2 linked regions of the Homo sapiens genome follow. The protein of the gene in region 2 purifies or fractionates together with the protein of the main gene of each other region. This does not show direct contact. Each region holds a gene or a part of one and is shown on either strand. Other genes may lie near its edges.

Region 1 (3,799 bases), on a different chromosome or scaffold from region 2:
CTGCCATCCCCAGGACAGCCTGCCCTGGTGTGACTCAGGGGAGAGGCCTTGCAGTGGAAGGCCCCAGTGCAGAGCCAAGCGCCAGGGGCTGGGGAAGCAGGAACCAGAGGAACAGGTCCCTGCGGTGGGGAGGTTTGGGCCATCCTCGCAGCCCAGGCATGTGGGAGCCAAAGAGGCCCTGGTCTGCCAACGTGGCGCCTGGAGCTTGGCTGGTGTCCTTGGCAGGGCCAGGAGAAGTGGCTCCAGCTGTGCCAAAATGCTTGAGTTGTTATGAACCTGTGAACGGTGCTGGGTGGGGGCTGGACCAGCTCTGCCTGCCTCACCCCCAGGTCACCCCAGGCCCAACCCAGAGCTCCCACGGCCACATGCTGTCCAAGGCTGGAGGGAGGCTCCCTGGCTGCACCTGGCAGCACCACCCTGGAGGGCAGCATGCCCCAGGCCCCCGACAGAGCACCATGTGGATGACAGGGTGGGGAGCGAGCACAGCCAGGACCTGCCGCCCACATGGTCCCCCAACCAAGACAATGCTGTGAGCTCCAAGGTGGGGATCCTGCCTCCCAGGCGTCTTCACGACGCCTGCATGGCCCCAAGCTGTGGCACGCCTGCCATGACCCCCAAAGTCTGGGTGGTGTGGGGAGGACAGAGCCCAGAAAGGGACCCTGATTCTTAGGCCCCACAGGAAGAAGCAGGGCCTCACCAGGTGCCGAGGTTTGAGGCCCATTTCCAGCCTCTGTGGGCAGGACACGTGGCTGGGCGGCTCTGCCGCCCGCTCTGGCCCCTTGGGGTGTTACCTGGCCAGGCTGTACCCGTGCTGCAGGGAGGAGAACAGCAGAAGGGGCTGGCACAGGGCAAAGCGCTCGGGGACCCAGGACCAGATGTCTCTCATCTCCCTCACGCTGACGATCTCCGAGCGGAAGTTCTCTGCATGGACGGCCAAGTGTACAAACTGCCTGAGGGGAGCGAGCAGGGGTCAGAGCCCGAAGGCACGTCTGGGGCCAGGCCATGCCCCCCGAGGTATGCCCCAGAGCCTCTTTGGAAGTAAACCCAGAGGGAACTTCTCGCCTGCTTGCCCCGGCCCCGGTTTAGGGCCGGGTTCTAGGTGCCCAACGGGGAGAAAGTTCCCAGGAGCCCCACCTCCCACCCATTACAGAAGGGAAAGTGCCCAGCTTGGATGGGGACAATGCAACTTTTCTCTAAGAAATCAGGACAGAGAGCAACTGCTCTGGCAAGACAAGGCTTCAGGGTGAGCCAAACACCAGCAGATAGCATGACAGAGGCAGACAGGCAGGGAGGCAGGCAGACAGACAGACAGAAGGCGCCTGAGCATCAGTCCGGCTCAGAGGCAGCGCTGCTGAAGCTGGCCCACGAGAGCAGCCCTGAGACCCAGAGCAAGCAGCTGGCCTAGAGTCAGCCTGGTGGAAAGACAGAGGCCAGGTGTGCAGATACAGTTTCAGACCTACCTTTTAGAAAGTGACACACTGAAAAACAGGAGAAAGCAACGGACATGGAGAAGAAAAATAAAACAGACAAAGAGAGGTTAGTGTGAGTACCGATCCCCCGACAGGCCTTTGCTGGCCCAGAAGAAAGAGGGCTGCACGCCAACAGGCCGCAGCGTGGCACCATCACAGCGCTGGCTGCCAAATCCACATAGGACAGACACCATGAACTCCTGACCCTGCTCCCCTGGGGCTGTGCTCCAGGCGGGGAGGCCACGCCCAGCAGCCACAGCAGAGACCAGCCACGGAGCCCAGAGCCGGAGGGGTGGAGCAGAGGCTGCCCTGAAATGACCCTGGGAGTGGGCCTGGCCTCCCACGATGCCTTGCGACCCCATGGCCAGCATCAGCTTTCATCTCAGCCGTGGGCCTGGCCCCAGAGGATAGGACCCGATGTCCCTCGTCTGTGGCTGTAACTGGGAAGGCCCTTCCTGTTTCAGTGTCTTTTCAGCCATGCACAGATGGCTGGGTGGACCATGGGCAGAGGCCGCCTGGAGGCCGGCAGGATGAGCTCACGCCAGACACGTCCTGCCCCAGCCCCCGACCCTGGGTGTACCCCTCACAGGCTGCCGGCGACCTACCTCTTCTGCTTCACGGTGATGCCCTTCTGCTTCAGGGCTTTCTCATTGGCCATCTGCAGGAGCTGGATCTCCTTGCGGGAGAAGAGGCGGATGGCGAACGCTTTCTCCAGCAGCTTCTCAGGGGACACCGTCTTCGCGATGTCTCTGACGAACGTGCGGATGTCCTGCTTCACGCTGTCCGACTCCAGCGGCTGCCCGGCCCTCACCTTGTGGAAGAACTTGAGGATGGCCAGCGCCACGCGGTACAGCACCTTGTAGCCCTCCACCAGGAAGACGTCAAAGACCCGGGCGAAGTAGCAGAGGGGCAGCTCCCCAAACAGCCAGCGCTGCCAGTCCGCATAGACCTGCAGGACATCCTCCGACACGGCCACCATCAGCTTGTGGGCCGCCTGGCAGTACTTGTTCACCAGGTCCCCAAACGTCATGCAGGACGACTCAAAGGCCAGGAAGCTCTGGTCGATCAGCCTCCTGCCGGGGTCATTGCAGGCCAGGATGCGGCAGGCCTTCTCGAAGCACTCGGCCTCGTCGATGCTGTAGTGCAGCAGCAGGGCCACCACGGCCGGCAGGGCGGGGCAGAAGGAGATGTCGGGGAACTGGTTGGCCAGGCACAGGAGGATCTTGCGCACGGCCCCCTCGCCGCGTGCATTCAGGCAGTAGCTGGGCACCTGCGTGTTGTCCACGAACTCGGGCAGCGGCAGGCAGCTGCTGCTGTGCTTGCCCACGATCTTGCCCACGATGTCGCTGTACACGCTGGCGTCAGGCGTGACCGTGCGGCAGGGAATGTCCCGGATCAGGCGCTGGTACACCTTTCCCCGCAGGGCGTGGCTTTGGGCCCAGTAGCCCTGGCGCGCCAGCTGCTTCAGTTCCTGCAGTTCAGTGCAGCTCAGCTCCTTGGGCCCCAGGTCCTGGATGGCAGCGTCCATCTTGTCTTTGTCCACGAAGCAGTTGTATCCTGGAGAGTCCATAGCGCCGCTGTGCTCGGGAGGAGGCCCTGGACTGCCGGAAGGGGAGGACAGAGTGGCTAAATCCTCCAGCCCCCTTTCTGAGGGTTTCCTGCAAACCTGTCTGCCATCTCACACCCTGCAGGATTAAAAAAACACTTTTAGCATCTGTGTTTCAAGGTTCACATTTTAAAGAACGTATTTTTTCAAATGTGGTGTAGTTTTCTTTTCTTTTGAGACAGGGTCTCGCTCTGTTGCCCAGGTTGGAGTGCGGTGCAGTGGCGTGACCCTGCTCTCTGCAGCCTTGAATGGCTTGAACCATCTTCCTGCCTCAGCCTCCTGAGTAGCTGGGACGACAGGTGTCCACCACCATGCCCAGTTAATTTTTTTTTTTGAGATGGAGTCTCACCCTGTCGCCCAGGCTGGAGTACAGTGTCACGATCTCCACTCACGGCAACCTCCTCGCCCCTGGTTCAAGCGATTCTCCAGACTCAGCCTTCTGAGTAGCTGGGACTAAAGGCATGCACCACCATGCCTGGCTAATTTTTTGTATTTTTACTAGAGACAGGGTTTCACCATGTTGGTCAGGCTGGTCTCAAACTCCTGACCTTGTGATGTGCCTGCCTTGGCCTCCCAAAGTGTGGGATTACAGACGAGAGCCACCGCCCTGGCCTAATTTTTTATTTTTTTGTAGAGACAGGGTCTCGCTATGCTCTCCAGGCTGGTCTTGAACTCCTGGGCTCAAGCAATCCTCCTGTCTTGGCCTCCCAAAATGTTGGGATTA
Region 2 (4,288 bases):
GCTAGATCCAGGAGAGAAAAGAGGGAGGACTGGCAGCTGAAGACTCCCTGGGACCCAAGCCTCGGTGTGGGGAAGAGGAGAAAACACAGCTCAGTACCCTCAGCCTGGGGCCCAAGGTCGGGTAAGAAGGCACAAAGGAACTGCAGTGAGGTCCGACTCCACTCAAGATCCTTCAGGGAGTCCTCAAGGGCTGGGGCGTGAGGAGGTAGCTAAATTCCACTGCCCACCTTTCCAACAAGGCCTCCTCAATCTCAATTCCCTTTTCAGCAGCTCCAGGCAAGTCCGGGCAAACTCTAGCCCAGGGCTCTTAGCGAGGCTGGACAGCTCCCGGCCTGCACGCCGGATTTCTGGAGAGCCCGAGCCCCTTCCCTGAGCCCATCCTTCTCCTCTCCCGGGGCGTGATCCCACCACGACCACAGCCGATGAGCCGTTCAAGCTGGGAGAAGGAGCGAGAAGGCTGCAGCGGCGCAGGTCAGATACCCCTGGGCCCAACGTCCACCCCCAACTAGCGCCCTTGCCAGCAGCGTTTTCCCCGGAGCCACAGTCTCCACCTCGAGATCTTCTCCTTCTGGAACCCCGGAGCGCGGCCGGGTACCAGGGGCTCGCGTAGGACTGTAGAACCGCTGCCGCCCGCCGTCCCAGCCCCAGCTGCCCGCGCGGTACTCACCTGGGCCTCAGTGCCCGGGAGAAGGTGTGCCCGCGCGAGGCGTGAAGCCAGAGTCCGTCCGACTCCGCCCGCACCGGACGCGCTCTCAGGGCAGAGGAGGTCGGCGGAGTTGTGACGCTGGGACTAGAGGAAGGAGAAGGAAAGCCGAGACGGGCCGGGCAGACGCGCCGAGGAGCGCCCAGTGCACGCTGGCAGCCGCGGGAGGCGAGGCGGGCGCGGTGAGCAGTCGCGCCGGAACCGAGCCGCGAATCCGCGCCGCCTCGCGCTCGCAGCCGCCAGGACCCGCGGGAATCCTGGTCCGCCGGCAGCGGTACTGAGGAGGGAGGGGCGCGGGGCTGAGCCGCTTCTCGGAGCCCGAGCGCCTCCCGGAGCCGGCAATCCCTGCTGCCCGGGCGGGATGCGGGCGGGAATTCAGCTCGCGTGGAATGTGGGACCGGCCGGGCTCGGAGTCTCCAGCGCTGGGGGAAAGCGGGGCCCACACAGCCAGGACGAGAGGGGGTGCGGTCCCAGGGCCACCCCCGCGCCACTCCCCACGTGGCGGCCGCGCCCCCGGGGCGTGAGTGTGTACGCGGACGGTAGGGGGGCCGTGAATGAAGCCCCAGCGGCCAATCAGCACGGCCGGCGCGCGGGACCCCGGGAGCGACGCCCAATGGAGAGCTCTGGGCGGCCGGGCAGGGTGGCGGGCGGGCGCGCGGGGCGGGGGCCGGGCAGGGGAGGCGGGAGGCAGCTCCGCGGGCAGCCAATGGGCGGCGGGCGGGGTGGGGCTCCGGAGCGCCGAGCGGGTCGGGGCTTTAAGCCGGCGGAGCGAGGCGGCGGGGCCCGCAGACGGAGCGGAGCGGCGGCGGCGGCGCGGCGCAGGGCGCGGGGCGGCATGGCCACCACCGCGCAGTACCTGCCGCGGGGCCCCGGTGGCGGAGCCGGGGGCACCGGGCCGCTTATGCACCCGGACGCCGCGGCGGCGGCGGCGGCGGCGGCGGCCGCGGAGCGATTGCATGCAGGGGCCGCGTACCGCGAAGTGCAGAAGCTGATGCACCACGAGTGGCTGGGCGCGGGCGCGGGCCACCCCGTGGGCCTAGCGCACCCCCAGTGGCTACCCACGGGAGGAGGCGGCGGCGGCGATTGGGCCGGCGGCCCGCACCTAGAACACGGCAAGGCAGGCGGCGGCGGCACCGGCCGAGCCGACGACGGCGGCGGCGGCGGAGGTTTCCACGCGCGCCTGGTGCACCAGGGGGCGGCCCACGCGGGCGCGGCATGGGCGCAGGGCAGCACAGCGCACCACTTGGGCCCGGCCATGTCGCCCTCGCCCGGGGCCAGCGGGGGCCACCAGCCCCAGCCGCTCGGGCTGTACGCGCAGGCGGCCTACCCGGGGGGCGGCGGCGGCGGCCTGGCCGGGATGCTGGCGGCGGGCGGTGGCGGCGCGGGGCCGGGCCTGCACCACGCGCTGCACGAGGATGGCCACGAGGCGCAGCTGGAGCCGTCGCCGCCGCCGCATCTGGGCGCCCACGGACACGCACACGGACATGCACACGCGGGCGGCCTGCACGCGGCGGCGGCGCACCTGCACCCGGGCGCGGGCGGCGGCGGCTCATCGGTGGGCGAGCACTCGGACGAGGATGCGCCCAGCTCGGACGACCTGGAGCAGTTCGCCAAGCAGTTCAAGCAGCGGCGCATCAAGCTGGGCTTTACGCAGGCCGACGTGGGGCTGGCGCTGGGCACGCTCTACGGTAACGTGTTCTCGCAGACCACCATCTGCCGCTTCGAGGCCCTGCAGCTGAGCTTCAAGAACATGTGCAAGCTCAAGCCGCTGCTCAACAAGTGGCTGGAGGAGACCGACTCGTCCAGCGGCAGCCCCACCAACCTGGACAAGATCGCGGCGCAGGGCCGCAAGCGCAAGAAGCGCACGTCCATCGAGGTGGGGGTCAAAGGCGCGCTCGAGAGCCACTTTCTCAAGTGCCCCAAGCCCTCGGCGCACGAGATCACCGGCTTGGCAGACAGCCTGCAGCTGGAGAAGGAGGTGGTGCGCGTCTGGTTCTGCAACCGGCGGCAGAAGGAGAAGCGCATGACCCCTGCGGCCGGCGCGGGCCACCCGCCCATGGACGATGTATACGCGCCTGGGGAGCTAGGGCCTGGCGGGGGCGGCGCATCGCCACCCTCCGCGCCCCCACCGCCCCCGCCGGCGGCGCTGCACCACCACCACCACCACACACTGCCCGGCTCAGTGCAGTGACCCCGCGGGCCGGGCCCCCGCCGGCGCGCTGCAGGGCGCGGGCGCGCAGCCCGCCCGCGCGGCCTGGACTCTTTTTGTTCGGTTGCTTTGGATTTTACAAAAAAAAAAAAAAGCCCAGAAACTTTCGAACAAAACCAAACACCCGGACGACCCTCTCCGGTGAGCGGCGAAGACAGCCCGGTAGGCTGCGTCGCCCGAGCCCCGGGAGAGAGGAGCGAAGATCCGGAACTCGCCAACTCACCCCGGGCATCCTGCCCGCCGCCTGCTCTCTGCCCCCATCCCCTCGACGACCCCCGCCCCTGCCCCCCCGGGCTGTTCGGGGCCGGATCCCGGCAGCGGCCTCCCCAAAGCGACAGGTAACGCAGTGCGGGGTTAGGGATTCCCCGGGAGAGAGGACGAAGCGAGGAGAGTTCTCCATCCCCTCTCCCCGCGTGGACTCCTGAGCCTGCGGGTCCAGGGTGGGGGGCTGTCACTTTATTCGCTACACGCCTCTTCTCTCCTATAAGGATGCGCCCCACCCCGCTTTCCCCTTTCTCCGGGCTTGGTTTTTTACGGTTTTTATTTATTCGTGGAGCCTCTCGGCTCCTGGGGTCCTTCTAACTCCGCCCGCGCCCTTAATTTAAATCGCAGTATACTGTATTTATCGGGGCCCCGGAGGGGAGGTCGCGAGAGCCGCGTCTGTGTATAAAAGCAGGAAATAGCCAAAGCTTTAATCTAGCCTAATTTATTTTTCCCCTTATATTTCCCTACCCTACCCTCCCCCCAAAAAAAAGCAAAAAAAAAAAAAAAAAACTAACAAAAAAAATTCGAGTGTTCATTTTTCGTTTCGTTTCATCCGAGCCCCGGCTTGGTTCCCGGCCACGCCGGAGGGGTCTGCGCTCCCACACACCCAGACGGGAAGGGGCTTCTGCCCTGCTGCAGACCGACCGCCGCATAGCGCGGCCCCTGCTCCCCGCGGGGCCCTGCCCTCCTGGCCACACCAAACGAAACTTGGAAAAGTTAGAGAGATTGTTTTTTAACCAGCTGTAGAAATAAGCCGTTCCCTGAGAACCCTCCGCCTGATTCCCTGCAGCTTCCCTCTGCTCCCTTTCCAGCCCGCCGGGATGCGGGATGCCAGGGGAGGCCGGGAGAGAAATTCCCCAAGTTTGGGGTGAGGTGGGAACCATGTAAATATGTGAGATATGTACACACTGGCGGGGAGAAGAAACATTTTGTGCTTGGTTTTTATTTTTGGTTTTCCGGGTTACCCTTCCTTCCTACCCTAAAGGATTTTGTACACTGACTAATCCGAAAAAGATATTTTAATATGATTTCCGAATTTCTGACCCATCTCTATTTATTTTCTGGATGTGTTTGGAGCTTCCCCCTTCTCCGTTTCTTCTTCTGTTTGTTAA

Evidence for each region.
Region 1: the proteins of POU3F1 (region 2) and TBC1D24 purify together in Homo sapiens (affinity purification with mass spectrometry; one large-scale study listed by BioGRID and IntAct). This does not show direct contact.

What each region holds. Positions count from the first base shown.
Region 1 is NC_000016.10:2,495,389-2,499,187, reverse strand, and holds part of TBC1D24 (TBC1 domain family member 24), read right to left. Parts: intron 3,155-3,799; 5' UTR 3,040-3,154; coding exon 2,075-3,039; intron 1,479-2,074; coding exon 1,461-1,478; intron 951-1,460; coding exon 792-950; intron 1-791. UniProt on the Homo sapiens protein: May act as a GTPase-activating protein for Rab family protein(s). Involved in neuronal projections development, probably through a negative modulation of ARF6 function. Involved in the regulation of synaptic vesicle trafficking.
Region 2 is NC_000001.11:38,043,994-38,048,281, reverse strand, and holds the start of POU3F1 (POU domain, class 3, transcription factor 1), read left to right. Parts: upstream 1-1,488; 5' UTR 1,489-1,538; coding exon 1,539-2,894; 3' UTR 2,895-4,288. UniProt on the Homo sapiens protein: Transcription factor that binds to the octamer motif (5'-ATTTGCAT-3'). Acts as a transcriptional activator when binding cooperatively with SOX4, SOX11, or SOX12 to gene promoters. Acts as a transcriptional repressor of myelin-specific genes.